2 separate regions of the Homo sapiens genome follow, and region 2 is linked to region 1. A link means that fine-mapping ties the variant in region 1 to the expression of a gene that starts in the linked region. Tissue or cell type: whole blood. Region 1 holds a variant in brackets; the other region holds the start of a gene. All regions are shown on one strand. Distances are from middle to middle.

Region 1 (8,000 bases):
TGTCAGCCAACACCTTGACTTCAGCCCAGGGAAACCCACACTGGACTGAGGACCGAGAGGACTATGTGTCAGCAATAACAGAAAAGGAGTAGAAAGGCCATCTATTGCGGCCCTGTATTTATTATAAATAAACTGAATCCAAACTAAAAATCCACCCACTGGGGAATGGTTACTGACAGAATAGAAATGTTCTATGGCTATTACAAAGAAACAAGCTTGCAGCCATCAGCATGGCTAAAAGGAAGGCAGGACTTAGAACAAACAGGACTCTCCCTCTCTCCTGTGGGACAGAAACTGTGTGACTGCTTTGGAGAACGGGTTGGCAGCATCTACACAGGCCCTACAGCCCAGCTTCCACTCCTCAGTACGTCCCAACAGCAATGGGCACCTGTGTTGACCAAACGCGTCTGAGACTCCTCACAGGAGCCCTGTGAGAGTCACCCAACATGGAAACCATCCCAAAGCCCATCTGGAGTGGAGCCAATGCACTGCAGCCTTGACACACGGGAGACCACTCGGCGCGGGGAAGGAGGGAGCAACTGCACTCAACCACGTGGCCGAAGCTCACCCAGAAGACATGGAAAGAAGGCAGCCGGACACAGGAGAGTTTGCCCTGTGTGGCTCCATTGACGTGAAAACTAGACAAGGCAGATGAGTCCACAGTGACATGCCAGGCCGGGGGCAGAGTGTGAGAGGCCTGCAGAGGGCGAGGCTGCGAGGGCTGATGCTTTCTCAGGCCGGCATGCCTGTCCGCACTCACTGTATTGCAGACTTTAAAGGGGTTTTTTTGTACACAAATTACACCTCAATAAAGCTGATTAATTAAAAGACGGAAAGCTGACAACATCAAATGTTGGCAAAGATGTGGAGCACCTGGAACTCTCATGCATTGCTGATGGGACTATGAAACAATGGGGCTGCTTGAGCAAACAGTTTTCTCTTTTGAGATCAGGTCTCACTGTGCTGCTCAGGCTGGAGTGCAGCGGAACAATCACGGCTCGCTGCAGCCTCCAACTCCAGGGCTCACACGATCCTCCTGCCTCAGCCTCCTGAGTAGCTAAGACTATTACAAGTGTGCGTCACCACACCAGGCTAATTTATTTATTTTTTTGAGACAAAGTCTCACTCTGTCGCCCAGGCTGGAGTGCAGTGGCATGATCTCAGCTCACTCCAACCTCCGCCTCCCGGGTTCAAGTGATTGTCCTGCCTCAGCCTCCCAAGTAACTGGGACCACAAGCACCACCACCACACCAGGCTAACTTTGTATTTTTAGTAGAGATACGGTTTCACCATGTTGGCCAGGCTGGTCTCAAACTCCTGACCTCAAGTGATCTGCCTGCCTCGGCCTCCCAAAGTGCTGAGACTACAGGCATGAGCCACCACACCCAGCCCCAGGCTAATTTTTCAATATGTTTATAGCAACGAGTTCTCACTATGTTGCCCAGGCTGGGCAAGCTTATAAATTAAAACGTACACTCATATATGACAGCAATTCCACTCTTAGATCTACCTAAGGGAACAGAAACACCTTCAGAAAGACTCACATATATTCTAGAGAAACACCTTCAGAAGGACTCACGTGTATTCTAGAGAAACACCTTCAGAAAGACTCACATATATTCTAGAGAAACACCTTCAGAAAGACTCACGTGTATTCTAGAGAAACACCCTCAGAAGGACTCACGTGTATTCTAGAGAAACACCTTCAGAAGGACTCACATATATTCTAGAGAAACACCTTCAGAAGGACTCGTGTATTCTAGAGAAACACCTTCAGAAGGATTCACGTGTATTCTAGAGAAACACCTTCAGAAGGCCTCGTGCGTATTTGTGTTATAGTTTAGTGCTAGTGCCACTGAACTGTATCCCTACATATGGCTAAAATGACGTGTTTTCTGTATTTTACAAGAAAAATAATTAAAAAAAAAAATTTAAAAGAACTAGCTCTGAGCCGGGTGTGGTGGTACATGCCTGTAGTCCCAGCTGCTAGGGAGCTGCTAGGTGGGAGGATCAGTTGAGCCCAAGAGGTAGAGGCTGCAGTGAGCTGAGATCATACCACTGCACTCCAGCTGGGGCAACAGAACGAGAGTCTCAAAAAAAAAAAAAAGAAAAAGAAAAAAGAAGAACTCGTTCACATCAGCATTATTCGTAATACCCCAAACCAGGAAATAACCCAAATGTGCATCAACAAGGTAAATGCATAAACAAACTGGGGTATATTTGTGCAAAGGAATACCACTTGGGAACAAAAAAAGAAGAATCTACTATTGTACATCATGAATAAGTTTCAAAACTGCTGAGCAAAAGAAACCAGGGTCTGCTTCGTATCCATGATGTCTGGAACAGGAAAAAGCAGCCCATGTGATGGAAGCCGACTGCTGGGGGCTGGGGGCTGACTCGGCAGGGCCTGAGGGGCTTTCTGGGAGGAGAGTGGATGTGCTCCTGATTTGGATGAGGGTACTGGCTGCATAGGTACATATATGTGCCAAAACTCATAGAACTGTACATGCAAAGAGGGTACATTTATTAAATAGACATCATCTCTCAATAAAATTGATTTAAAAAAATTAAACCCACAGGGCATTGATCTGCTTTGAATTTGGAGGTCTAAGGATTAGGGGACCGGATTACCCTACAAGACAGCCTGAACACATATCAGAGCCAGATGTGAAGGCACTGCCTGTCCCTGAAGACCTGGGGCTCTAAGTCATTCACGTGCGGGGCCGGCGCTCCGCATTCAATCTTCCGGCATACCACTCCCCTCGGATGTCTTCTGAGACAAGGACAGCCCACGTCCACCAACCCCACTGCAGGCAAACCGGCGCCTGCCTGATGGAGGACAGTAAAGGAAGGAAAAGTTATCTAACAAATTTCAAATGTGTCTGTGTACACCAGCATGCCAAATGTCAGAAGAAATTCTAGGGCAGTTTGTGGACTGGTTTCCTGCGAAGCTAGAGCTTTTACTTAACGCCTTAAAACCCACAACAAGCCAAAAGGGCTCTCGTGTCTACAAAGAGCAGGCACACTTGGCACAGAACACCTGGCTAAACACAGAACATTAAGAAAACAAAAAACACAGGTCTGGCCCCAGCTACTCAGGAGGCTGAGGCAGGAGGATTGCTTCAGCGCCACGGTTCAAGACCAGCCTGGGCAACACAGTGAGACCCTATCTCTTAAAATTCTCCTCTCCCATCTTTTAAGGAGCAGATCCCATAGCTCTCAGATTACTTTCAATGATTACAAATCCAGCTTAGTGTGGCTTAAACCCCAATCTCATGTCCACTTTAAGACTCATTTCTGGCTGTGCTTGGTGGCTAACACCTGTCATCTCGACACTTTGGGAGGCCAAGGTGAGAGAATCACTTGAGCCCAGGAGTTCAAGACCACTAGCCTAGGCAACATGGCAAGACCTCAATTCTACAAAAAATAATTTATTGGCCAGGCACAGTGGCTCACGCCTGTAATCCCAGCACTTTGGGAGGCCGAGGTGGGTGGATCACTTGAGGTCAGGAACTCGAGACCAGCCTGGCCGACATGGTGAAACCTCATCTCTACTAAAAAAATACCAAAAAACTAGCCGGGCGTGGTGGCAGGTGCCTGTAATCCCAGCTACTCGGGGGGCTGAGGCAAGAGGCTTGAACCCAGGAGGCAGACGTTGCAGTGAGCCAAGATCGTGCCATCACACTCCAGCCTGGTGGACAAGAGCAAGACTTTGTCTCAAAAATAAAAAAATAATTTATTAAAAAATTAGCCAGGTGTTGTGGTGCATGCCTATGGTCTTAGCTACTTGAGAGGCTGAGGCGGGAGGATCACTAGAACCCTGGAATTTGAGGCTGCAGTGAACTATGATCACTGCACTCCAGCCTGGAAGAGTGAAACTGTCTCTCTAATAAAAAAAAACAAAACCAAAAAAAAAAAAA[C/AC]AGAGATGACCACTGCTAATGTTGTCATATATTTCATTCCACAATTATTTTACATACTTAAGATATCAAGCATATACACTTCATTGAATAATCATTAAATGTGCCTCCAAATCAGTAGTTTTTTGTTTTGTTTTGAGAGCTGTTGCCCAGGCTGGAGTGCAGTGGTGCAATCTCGGCTCACTGCAACCTCTGCCTCCTGGGTTGAAGCGATTCTCTTGCCTCAGCCTCCTGAGTAGCTGGGATTACAGGTGCCCGACACCACACCCCGCTAACTTTTATATTTTCAGTAGAGACGGAGTTTCACCATGCTGGCCAGGATGGTCCCAATCTCCTGACCTCGTGATCCACCCACCTCGGCCTCCCAAAGTGCTGGGATTACAGGCGTGAGCCACCGCATCCGGCCTTTTTTTTTTTTTTTTTTTTTTTTTTTTTTACTTTTTTTTGCAGGGATAGGGCCTTGCTACGTTGCCTAGTCTGAACCCCCGGCCTCAGGGGATCGCCTGCCTTGACTTCCCAAGTAGCTGGGATTATAGGCGTGCACCACCGCACCCGGTCCTGTGTTGTGATGTTTTACTATTTGATAAACTTATAAGCATTCCCTCTCATGTAATTTTAGGATAACAATTCTATTTTTCATGAGAATCTCCTGTCTGAACACTGCATGCATGGCCCTAGTGAACTGACTGAGACTAGGGGAACAGTCCCAGCAACGATCACATTGCTCTGCTGACGCGGCTGCGGCGGGGACCTGCCCGGAGTCTGGCACCCAGGGGTGCTCAGCACACACCTGAGCAAACTCACACTCTGAGCCGGATCCTGGCGACCCGGGCTCTGGAAACTGACGTGTGGACACTGTTGCTCCCGAGCAGAACAGCCTTCTGCCCAGCCCACCTAGGGCAAATGTAACACCTCTAACAGGCTGGACACAGACGGTTTCTCCTGCTCTTTCATTTCAATTCAGAAAGGATGCACACTTTCAGAATGAGCAGATACTCGGTGATACAGCCTTGATGGTGTGGATAACACACAAAAAATCATAGTTTTTGGTACTACAATTTTTTAAAAGTCAAACCAGCTCCACACACACGTGGGAGCTACAGCTTCTATCTCTGTTCCAAACACAAGCAGCAGGCCCATTTACTGAACGGTGAGGAAAACTACATCAGGAGAGAAGAGCTTTAACGCTAATGACCAGGAGGTGGCTCTGCAAGGAGGCTAAGGGTCTAAATGCAGAGGCAGACAGAGGGGCAGGCTGCTCCTGGGGTGCCAGAGGGCCCCTTCCTCCACAGCAGTCCAGGAGAGCCTCACGCAGCTGCCACACACCAGGCTCTGCCACAGTTGTGACTGCCAGCTCTTCAGAAGACAGAGACTGGAGTCAAAACCTTTCTGTTTCCCCACAGGCAAAACCTGGGCAGTCACCGCTTGCTGATAATGAATTATGTGTTAAACTGTCTGTGTGACGCACGTAGGCACCAAAGCTCTTATTTTTATTTTTTTGAGATGGAGTCTCACTCTGTCGCCCAGGCTGGAGTGTAGTGGTGCAAACTCGGCTCACTGCAACCTCCGCCTCCCCAGGTTCAAGCGATTCTCCTGCCTCAGCCTGCTGAGTAGCTGGGAATACAGGTGCATGCCACCAGGCCAAGCTAATTTTTGAATTTTTAGTAGAGACGGGGTTTCACCATGTTGGTCAGAACGGTCTTGATCTCTTGACCTTGTGATCCGCCCGCCTCGGCCTCCCAAAGTGCTGGGATCACAGGCGTGAGCCACCGTGCCCATCCGGCACCAAAGCTCTTTAAAAAAGTCCAACAACAATGTTTTAAACTCGGCAGGTTAGGTGACATCCATTTCTATTACTTACACTTTGCACTTGCTACTATTACTATTATTATGACTACTATTTTGCATATACTCAATTTTTAATAAAGTAATTTAAGAAGCTGACATACTAGCTATCCCTCCCCACCAGGAGGACACAGGCTCTTCAGAGAGATGGCCGTTTCCAGGGCAGGCAGGACCCACATCTGCTGGAAGTACAGACTGTTCCAGGACACAGGGAGCTCCGGGAACTCAGGGCATAGCCCAGGACGCAGGTGCCACCTGAAGAGGCTCCAACATCAAGGGGGCCATGGGAGTCCCAAACCAAACAGGAAAGGAGTATGATGCCACAAGGGAACAAAACTTTGCAAATCCACGCTGACTGATGCCACGAGGGAACAAAACCTTGCGAATCCACGCTGACTGATGCCACGAGGGAACAAAACCTTGCGAATCCACGCTGACTGATGCCACGAGGGAACAAAACCTTGCGAATCCACGCTGACTGATGCCACGAGGGAACAAAACCTTGCGAATCCACGCTGACTGATGCCACGAGGGAACAAAACCTTGCGAATCCACGCTGACTGATGCCACGAGGGAACAAAACCTTGCGAATCCACGCTGACTGATGCCACGAGGGAACAAAACCTTGCGAATCCACGCTGACTGATGCCACGAGGGAACAAAACCTTGCGAATCCACGCTGACTGATGCCACGAGGGAACAAAACCTTGCGAATCCACGCTGACTGATGCCACAAGGGAACAAAACCTTGCTGAATCCACGCTGATTAATGCCACGAGGTAACAAAACCTTGCTGAATCCACGCTGACTGATGCCACGAGGGAACAAAACCTTGCTGAATCCACGCTGACAGTAGCGAACACCCACGGGTGTGCATTTTCACGTACATGCCTATCGACAGAAGCAGCCATGGCAGCAGCGCACACGGAGGAGGCACGGCGTGGCCCCAAGGGAAGCTGCCTCCTCCTTGCTGACCTGGTGAAGTGGGTCCTGCTGGCATCAGCTGACCTGGCGGCTCCTCTCAGGCAGGAATCAGGTGGGCGCAAGACTCTGCGGGCAGCCACTAGGGCTGTGGCCGGCCGACACGGGCAGGCATCAGCCTGACACTGCCTTGGCAGAGCCTGAGGACACAGACACCCCTCGGAGCAAAGCTGGTGGCACAGGCAGAGAAGGGTCTCCTGTCAGTGGCAGCTTCGGCCGGGGCCGGGGCCTGGGCTGTGACCATACTCCCCTCCCCTGCAGCAGTGACTTTCTGGACCGAAACACAGCACCTCGGCAACCCTGATCAGTGTCACTGTGTTTGTGTTCAGAGTCCTGAATCCTGATGTCATCTACCCTATTACCGCCCCTCCCAGCTAGGTCTGACACACAGGCTGTACCTGCTGTGCCCAGGTGGCCGACAACGTTGCTGACCAGGAAGTCAGGCGAAAGCCCAGCAGCAGCCGCCGGCCCCGGGCAGGGAAAGCAGCACACAGGCTCCCACCGGGTTACCCACGCTGCTGGAGCTGCTGGAGAGTGCTGTGCTTGACCGCCCGGCCTACACCTTCACTCAGGGTTGACATGAGGTTCTTACATCCGGCCGCTGTACAAACTGTAAAGTACCTGCCCATTTCCAGGACTCAGCTCTTCTCTTCTTCCATCCTCTTTTCTTTATTTTTTATTTTTTGAGACAGGGTCTCACTCTGTCACCCAGGCTGGAACGTAGTGCAACAGTCAGACTCACTGCAGCCACCACCTCCCAGGCTCCAGTGAGTTTCCCACCTCAGCCTCCCAAGTAATTGGGACTACAGACGTGCACCACCACACCCAGCTAATTTTCTTTTTTCTTTTTTTTTTTTTTTTTTTGTGAGACAGAGTCTCGCTCTGTCACCAAGCTGGAGTGCAGTGGCACAATCTCAGCTCTCTGCAACCTCCGCCACCCAGGTTCAAGCAATTCTCCTGCCTCAGCCTCCCAAGTAGTTGGGGCTACAGGTATGCGCCACCACGCCCGGCTAATTTTTGTATTTGTATTTGTATTTTTTTTTTTTTTTGAGGTGGAGTCTCGCTCTGTCACCCAGGCTGGAGTCAGTGGCGTGATCTCGGCTCACTGCAAGCTCTGCCTCCTGGATTCACGCCATTCTCGTACCTCAGCCTCCCAAGTAGCTGGGACTACAGGTGCCCGCCACCATGCCCAGCTAATTTTTTGTATTTTTATAGAGACAGGGTTTCACCATGTTAGCCAGGATGGTCTTGATCTCC
Region 2 (8,000 bases), 29 kb before region 1:
GGGGCAGCACCTCACTGCCGTCCTGTTCCTACTCACCAGGGGCTCTTCAGAGCAGCAGGACACCTGCTCAAACCCAGGGCCCTGCTCATCACCTACGGGGTGAGTGGGCCTGTCCACGGCGGGCCTCCCGCTCCCAGTCCTAGCTGCTGTCTCCTGCCCTGCTGAGAGTCCTCCCTCCTGGGCTCCCTGCCCCCCGCCCAGCCACCAGCACGGCCTCCCCTCCACTTCCAGTCTGTACCCCTCCCTGGGTCATCTGCCAGCCTCCCTACCCCCTTGCCCACCAGGCTGGCCTTGGCTGACTCCCTCTTGGGGACAGGGAGGGGGTGCCCTTTCATTCTCCAAACCCCAGCCTGCAAGTCTGTCCCAGGCTCTCTGGGAAATACCCCGACCTTGGTCCAGTGGGCTGTGTCCCCATGCCCACAGCCCTATGCCATCAATGGGAAGATCTCCCCCCAGAGCAACGTGGACTTTGACCTGATGCTCAGATGCAGGTCAGAGCTAGAGGCGGGGGGTCTGGCTCAGGTGGCAGGTGGCTTGGGTGGCACCCCCCAGGCCATGACTCCATCTCCCCACCCTCTGCAGGAACCCAGAATGGGGGCTTCGGGACACAGCCCTCCTGGAGGACCTGGGAAAGGCCAGTGGCCTGCTCCTGGAGAGGATGGTAGGTGGGGGAGCGGGGGCCCAGGCAACCTCTCTAGGGGTTGAGGGCCGTCCTCCAGCAAAGTGTTTCTCCAGGTGGACATGCCAGCCAACAACAAATGCCTGATCTTCCGGAAAAACTAAGCCCCTCCTTCACCCCCGCACACCTGCATCCCTGCCGGAGGCTCTGTGAGGCACGAACCCTGCCTCCCTAGGCCGGACCTTGTGGACGACAGCCCCACCCAGTCTGTGCTCTCAGCCGCTGGCCGAAGGGCCCAGCCTGCTCAGAATAAAGCATGTCCTGCTGCCGGCTTGCTGGTGTCTGCCCCACCTCCTCCTAGGAGCACCTTGTGAGGTTGGGTGGGAGACGGGGTCTCCTGTGGGGTCAAGGGCTTGGGACGTCCTGATCCTTGCTGCTGGAGCTCGGGCAGTGGGATTGGGGCCGAGACAGCTGCTGAGGCAGGATGGAGCTGGTTGGGGATGCAGGGGCGGACAGGCACTCCCTGGTGACCTTGTACCAAAGCCCAAGCCCCAGTGGGTGTCAAGGCCCCAGCGGAAACTGGCTGGGCATGGGGCACCTGGAAGGATGAGGGTCGCCCGACCAGCAGCAGCAAGCCAGGAGGTCTGAGGCACAGGGAGTGCGTTTATTCACCAGGACGGGGTGGCGCAGGCCCCTGCGGGGGCTAGTCCTGGAAGCGGTTGAGCAGCTCGCAGGCCTGCTTCTCCAGCAGCTCCAAGATCTTCTTGACGCGCTTCTCGCTGGCGGCGCGGACGTAGCTGCCGGCGTCCAGCACGGCCACGCCATCGCGCACCTCACCCATGATGACCAGCGGCCCGTCGCCCGCCGTCATGTTGGGGCAGGGGCAGGCCCAGTCCATGCCACTCAGCGTCACCTCCAGGTACTTGGTGCCCAAGAACTTGAGGCCCATCTTGTCATCCTTGAGCACGTCCTCGAGCGCCACGCGGGCGATGCCGCCGGCGGCCTCGGGCTCCTCCAGCACCTCCGTGAGCCGCCCCACGATGGCGAAGTCGCTGCGGCACAGGCTCAGCGCCAGCTTGCTCCGGAGGCGGCAGGCGCGGCAGGGCGGTGTGCGCGGCACGGGGCAGGCATCCTCGCAGCTCTCGCGGCTGTGGAAGTTGTTGCCGTTGCCCTCGCAGCCACCGTACACGAAGGGATGGCACTGCTGCAGCAGCGGGCTGTAGGCCCAGCGCGGCTCCCAGCCCCGGCAGGGGCCCTGCACGGCAGGCAGCACGCAGGCGTCGCCGGGGCCGCGGGCACAGGCCTGCTGGCATGCCTCGTAGGTCTCAAAGCCGCGGGCCGCCCCATCACAGCCACGGGCCGGGAAGGTCATGCAGCCGCCCCGCTGCGGGTCGTAGTGCCAGAGGACAAGGTGTGGGGAAGTGGGGCCCGTGCAGGCCTGCACATCCGGCAGGCACTCGGCCGGGGCTGGGATGCTGGGGGCTGCGTCCCTGGCCGGCTCTCGCTGGACCACAGAGAGTGGGAAGTCAGCCCGCAGCAGCCCAGCAGCGTTGCGCGCGGTGCAGGTGTACAGGCCGGCGTCTTCGGGCCGCGCGTTGTAGAGCACCAGCTGCCCGATGCTGGTGACCACCACGTTGCCATACATCTGATCAGGGCGCATGATCAGGTTCTCTCGCTGGTGACTCTGCTTCTCCCAGGTCACAGCAGGCGGCGGGCGGCCGCTGACGTCGCAGTGGAGGCTGGCCGTACCCCCAACCTGCACCGCCTGTGGGGAGGGGCTGCTGTACAGGGCAGGAGGCACGGGCGCGGCCCCAGGTGTGGGGCGGGCAGTGGTCTCCGGCGGCCCCGGGCTGCTGGGCGGCCAGCTGAGCACGTGCTTGCAGGGCACGATGTGGAGGTGCAGGCCCCGCAGGCAGGCCTCGGCGTCCATATAGCAGCGGTTGTAGTAGGTGAGGCCGTCCGAGGCGCAGGTGAAGCTGGGCTCCTTCTCACAGCGGTCGCGGCAGCGGCACACGGGCTGCCCGTCCCAGATGTCGCAGTCCGAGCCCTGCTGTGGGCACACAAAGCCCTCGCAGGAGGCCGCTGTCGTCGGCGCAGCTGGGCTGCCGGGGAAGCGTGCTGCCACGCAGCTGTGCAGTCCACACACGTTGATGCAGCACTTCTCAGCAGCCGCACAGTCCTGGGGATGGGGGACACTTAGGTGGGAGCCCCAATGCCCCCCGCCCCGGGGCTCTGGCCTGGCCCCTGCAAGGGGAGGCCCAGGTGGGGTAGCAGGGAGCCCCCCGCTCTGTGGCTGCCTCCCCGGGGACTCAGTGTCCTTTCCATCCTGTGTGAGGAGCCACCTCGCCAGAGGTGCCACCTGGCTTACCTTCCAGAATCCTCACACCCACAAGCAAGTTCCGTTATTCTTTACGTTGTACAGACGAGGAAACTGAGGCCCAAGGAGGGCGTACAGTGCTCAGGACCACCCAGCAGGTGGTGCGGGCCAGGACAAAGGCTGGACATCGGCTGCAGCACCCCCACCACCATCTGCACTGGTCCCGGATGGAAGGAGGGTGGGAGGACAGGGAGGACAGTGGATGGAAGGAGAGGGTGGGAGGAGAGGATGGAAGGAGAGGGTGGGAGGAGAGGATGGAAGGAGAGGCAGTGACGGGGTGGGAGAAGAGGATGGAAGAAGTGGATGGGAGGAGTGGATGGGAGGAGTGGATGGGAGGAGAGGGTGGGAGGAGAGGCAGTGAAGGGGTGGGAGAAGTGGATGGGAGGAGAGGATGGAAGGAGAGGCAATGACGGGGTGAGAGAAGAGGATGGAAAAAGTGGATGGGAGGAGTGGATAGGAGAGGATGGAAGGAGAGGCAGTGATGGGGTGGGAGAAGAGGATGGAAGAAGTGGATGGGAGGAGTGGATAGGAGAGGATGGAAGGAGAGGCAGTGACGGGGTGGGAGAAGAGGATGGAAGAAGTGGATGGGAGGAGTGGATGGGAGGAGAGGGTGGGAGGAGAGGATGGAAGGAGAGGCAGTGAAGGGGTGGGAGAAGTGGATGGGAGGAGAGGGTGGGAGGAGAGGGTGGGAGGAGAGGCAGTGACGGGGTGGGGGTGGTCGCCGAGGATGATGGTGCCCCAGGGTGGAGGCACATGGGGAGCATGAAAGCTGGAGTGGGGAGGGCTCTTATTCTTAAGACAAATGAGGGCAACGATGGGGGTGTCTCTGGGCCCCTTAAGGGGCCCAGACCCAGACCCCCCAGAAGTCTGGGGAGCCCAGGCAGAAGGTGGCACCTCCAGCAGGGTCTTGCCCAGGCTGGCTGCTCTGAGCCCCAGGACCCCGGCCCGACCACACTCACCTGGTCCCTGCTACACTCGCGCTCACAGGTGCTCTGGGCGTCCACCCACAGGTTGGGGCTGAGCTGGTTGGGGCACACGCCCGGGTGGCTCCCCAGCCCTGGCAGCAAGCCAGCCCCCGAGGTCAGCCGGAGGAGGAGCAGGAGCGGCAGGAGTGGACGTAGGGCGGGCATGAGGGCCGCCGAGCCAGGGGGCCGGGGGGTGTGGCCACCAGCCCCTCCTCGGGCTCCACAGAGCCCAGCTTCCTGCAGGCATCCACCCTCCGGGCCTGTGGTCGGTGCCCCCACCAGGACCCCGGGGCTCCCTTTTGCCCCTGAGGCTGAAGCCTGCAGCAGATGCTTGTCCTGACACCCCTGCTGGGTGGGTAACGGGGTCTCCAAGTTCTCAGAGGCCGTCTGTGTGACGCTGGTTCCTCTCCAGCTTCAGCCTGGCCCCTCTGTCTGAACCGTGCGGGGGCTCCCAGGCCCTGGTCAGCACAGGGCAGAGGGGAGGAGGTTGGGGAGGGGCCAGAGGCCCATGAGCACAGAGCCACTGGCCATGAGGGTCACCGGGGCGGGGAAGGGCTGGCTCTGGCTGGAGAGGGGGAGGGGAGGGGACCCTGTAACCTGAACCCCTTCGTCCACCCCTGGGCTGAGATCAATCTCCTTGACGACCCTCAGTAGGGTGGGGGCAGGGCCAGCAGATCCCAGCTTTTGTCCCTGGCGCCCTCTGGACCCCAGGCTCCTATGCCATGGGGGTGGCAGGCACGGGCCCTCCCCGCAGAGCGTGGCTGACCACAGCCTGGGTCCCCCGGGCCAGGTCCAGGCTGGCAACGGTCACGTGCGGCCGAGGGCTTCACTCCGCTCCGAGGTTCCTTCCCCCCTCCATGGCTGTTTCAGGGGCACAGGGGTCTGCAGGACGCCCAGCACAGCCCGGCCTCCTCTGCTCTGCTGCCCCTGTTGGAGTGGGGCCCAACCCGGCAGGACTGCATTCCCAGAGACCCCATCCCTGAAACCAGGCAGCGGGCTTGGGGCTCAGGCCTGTCCCCAAGGCGGGGCAGGTGCAGCAGGAAGAGGCCTGTGGCCACCACAAGCATAAGAACAGCCCGAAACGCTGATGCCGGAGCCTCGGCCCACGCACCGTGTAGCCCTGGACGTGGCTCCGCGTGGGATGGCACCGCCCGAGGGAAGGCCAAGTGCAAGGGCGTCTGCAGCTGAAAAGAGCAAGTGTCCCAGGGCACCAGAGCCTTGCCCTGCCCCAGCCCCCCGTCGGCGGGGCACACATCCCCAGGCTGGCTCCTCTTCGTTGGGGAGGGCAGGGGGCTGGCCTGCCTGGTGCAGCAGGACAAAAGGCTGCCTGGAATCTACCCTTCCAAACCCTCTGTGGCTCCAGATGTCTGGGGCCTCAGGGAGTGGTTCTCTTGAGACCGGATGGGAGTGTCCCCCTGACCCTGTGTCTGACCTCTGACCCAGGAGGCAGGGTAACAGGAGCCTGGTCTGGTCAGAATGAGACCCGGAGACGGCTCCAGGCGCCAGTCCCTGCTCTACAAGGAGACTGGGGGTGGGCCCTGATAGCGTGGGGGTGGGGGTAGCTAGGCCAGACCCAGCAGCAGGCGGCTGGGCTGGAGCTGCCAGGGAGGGGCTTAAGGCCCGGACATGCCCACGAAACAGCACAGGGAGGCACCTGAGCCAGAGGCTGTGGTCTGGTCCCTGTACCAACTGGAGTGCCCCGTTCCAGCTCAGCTGTGACCTCCGGGGCGTCCACACCCCCCTGGGCCGGGCATAGCAGACACCAGATTGGCCAGCGTGCAGGCGGCTCTGCTGAGCGGGCCGACTGACTGGAGGACCTGGCCCTCTGGAGTCCTGCTGCTGTTGGGGACAGTCCGCCCCAGGCCATCTGCTGCCGGGGACTGTGAGCGAGGGCTCAGCACAGCCCAGCTGGGATTCCATCCACCGGGAAGAGGAGAATGGCCGTGACCAGGCCCAGCTGCTCCAGCCCAGCTCCAGCCCTCACTTTGAGGCGAACCCAGCCAACCGCGGCAGGTCAGCCCGGTCAGCGCAGGGAACAGCAGGCAAAACAAAGGCCAGAGGTCAGTTTGCCGGGTATGAAGCAGCACTGGCCCCTGGCACGGGGCACCGCCACTGCCAGACCCACCCCACCAGACACAGCAAAACGTGGGGACCACAGCTGAATTACATTTACTGTACAAAGAACGGTTCGGAGAGAACCAGGAATGGCGGAGTGTCTAACAGCAGCGCGGGTAGTGTTGATGCCGTGAATGCAGGACCATCCAGGTCCTCAAAGTCTGTGAGGTTTGTTCATAATCCCAAACAAGGGCCCTGCTGGCAGCAACAGGACAGGTGGGGCCAGGACAGGGAAGCTGGAGCAGGAGGCCAGTGTCTTTGGGGGCTGTGGCAGGGCCGCCTGCCTGGGGTTCCCTTACTCATCTGGTAGTTCATGCAGGCCACGGCCCTCATCTCCCAGGAACGGGCCATGGGGCGAGTCCACTGGTGCCCAGTAACACCCTCCGTGGGACCACCTTGGGAAGCATGTGCCGCGGAGTCCACCACGGGGGGTCCTGGGTCCCGGGAGGGCTCCTTCTGCGTGCTGGCCATGTCGTGCCGCACGGCCTGAGGACAGGAGGTAGAGGTGAGCACCAGTGCTGTGGGCAGGCCCAGGCGATGGTGACCGTGCAGAGGGGCTGCTGGGGCAGGCATGGGCAGAAGCACTGGGTGGAGGAGCGGCCAATGGCTTCAGGAGAGAGGTGGCCGGCCCTGCGTGCCTGGGGCTCAGCATGAGCGCCGGGCTGGTGGGCCTTTGAGGAGGGGCCTAGCCTCCCGAGGCCCCCAGGTGGACGTGGACGTGGACGAGGTGGTTCCAGGCACGTCCCTAAGAAGGTCAGGATGGTTCTGATGCCGTGCAACCTCACAGGAGAGCTGCAGCTGTGGGGACCCCAGGGCCAGCGACAGAAGCTGCCGAGAACAGGAGGCTGCACGCAGGTGCCCGGGGTCTGCACCGCTGCCCATCAAGTATTCCTAAGTCTACAGATAGCTCTGCACTCTCCAGGGTGGGCGAGATGATCTGAGTTTTGAGTGGTCAATGTCCCCGAAGGTGTCACATCACAGCAGGAAGGTTCTCATCCCCACGTGGGGAGGGATTTGGGGAGCAACAAAAATGTGGGCTGCCAGGTGCACCTCCTTTCTCCCCTCTCCTGAGTGCTGCTTGGGCTCTGACCACAGGACCACACCCTCCATCCCGTGGGAGCCAGGGCCCCGGTCACCCAAGCTTCCAGAGGGAGCACCGGCCCTGTCTGCTCCCCCGGCCTCTGGGCAGCCCCGCCACTCGCAGCGCATGAATTCACAGGATGCCTTGCCATCGCGGCCGCGAGTCCCCTCTCGAGGAGTCCCAAGTGCGTCCCCGCAGCTGGCGTGGCCATGAAGTCACCAGTGCACCACCACCGGGCCACACCCAGGCTTCCCTGAAGGCCCCTTAAAAATGTACAAAAAAGTGAAGTGTTCTCTATATAAATAAGAAAGGCCAACCAGGCTCCCCGCCGGTCAAGCCCAGGCAGCTGGGGAGGCCCGGCTTGTTTCCGACCAAGATTCCCGGAAGCACCAGCAGCCCAGCCGCGCCCCCTCCTCCCGCCTGCCGCGCTTGGTCCGTGCATGCTCCTCCTCGCACCCGGCTCAGGTGTGAGGAAAGCCCGGCGCTTCTGAGGCAGCTGTGTGGACAGTCTCCACGTAGGCGGCACTGGCCTGGCGTCCAGCCAGGAGTGTCCAGCTCGAGCCCTCCTGGCATCTGCACAGGCGGCCCCGCCCATCCCCGCTAGGAGATCTTGCAGTTACTCCGCGAGCAGTTCTGGGGGGGGCTCTGGGGTGGACGGATGGACTTGGACCTCTTGAGGCTGTTGCCCTTGCTGCCGCCGCCCCCGGCCCCGCTGGCCAGGGAGTAGGAACGGCCGTGCATCATGACCGCGTTCATGCCGTTGGCCATCGAGAAGGACTTGAGGTGGCTCTTGATGGTGACGGGCAGTGGAAGCTTGTCGATGAGGTGCACGGGGGTGCAGGA

Evidence for each region. PIP is the estimated chance that this variant, and not a neighbour inherited with it, causes the effect.
Region 2: it holds the start of WFIKKN1, and the variant in region 1 is fine-mapped to the expression of WFIKKN1 in whole blood (INTERVAL, PIP above 0.99).

Annotation. Positions count from the first base shown.
Region 1 is chr16:598,169-606,168 of GRCh38, reverse strand. All of the region lies in intron 1 of RAB40C (RAB40C, member RAS oncogene family), which reads right to left. It overlaps LOC124903618 (a long non-coding RNA gene), which reads left to right. Exons shown (of 2, transcript XR_007064934.1): 2 at 1-836. Among named protein-coding and RNA genes, the nearest start is that of RAB40C, 12 kb to the right of the region's middle. RefSeq lists an enhancer at 6,087-6,588. The variant C/AC (reference allele first, on the strand shown) is at 3,921.
Region 2 is chr16:627,380-635,379 of GRCh38, reverse strand. It overlaps WFIKKN1 (WAP, follistatin/kazal, immunoglobulin, kunitz and netrin domain containing 1), which reads right to left and starts at 4,395. Exons shown (of 2, transcript NM_053284.3): 1 at 3,956-4,395; 2 at 1,263-2,798. The coding sequence starts at 4,126. The coding sequence ends at 1,323. RAB40C (RAB40C, member RAS oncogene family) reads right to left here. Exons shown (of 6, transcript NM_021168.5): 6 at 6,112-8,000. The coding sequence ends at 7,758. It overlaps METTL26 (methyltransferase like 26), which reads left to right. Exons shown (of 6, transcript NM_032366.5): 3 at 40-99; 4 at 424-491; 5 at 583-661; 6 at 736-950. The coding sequence ends at 783. RefSeq lists enhancers at 1-135, 4,302-5,036, 5,217-5,511, 5,037-5,770, 7,240-7,973 and a silencer at 7,603-7,853.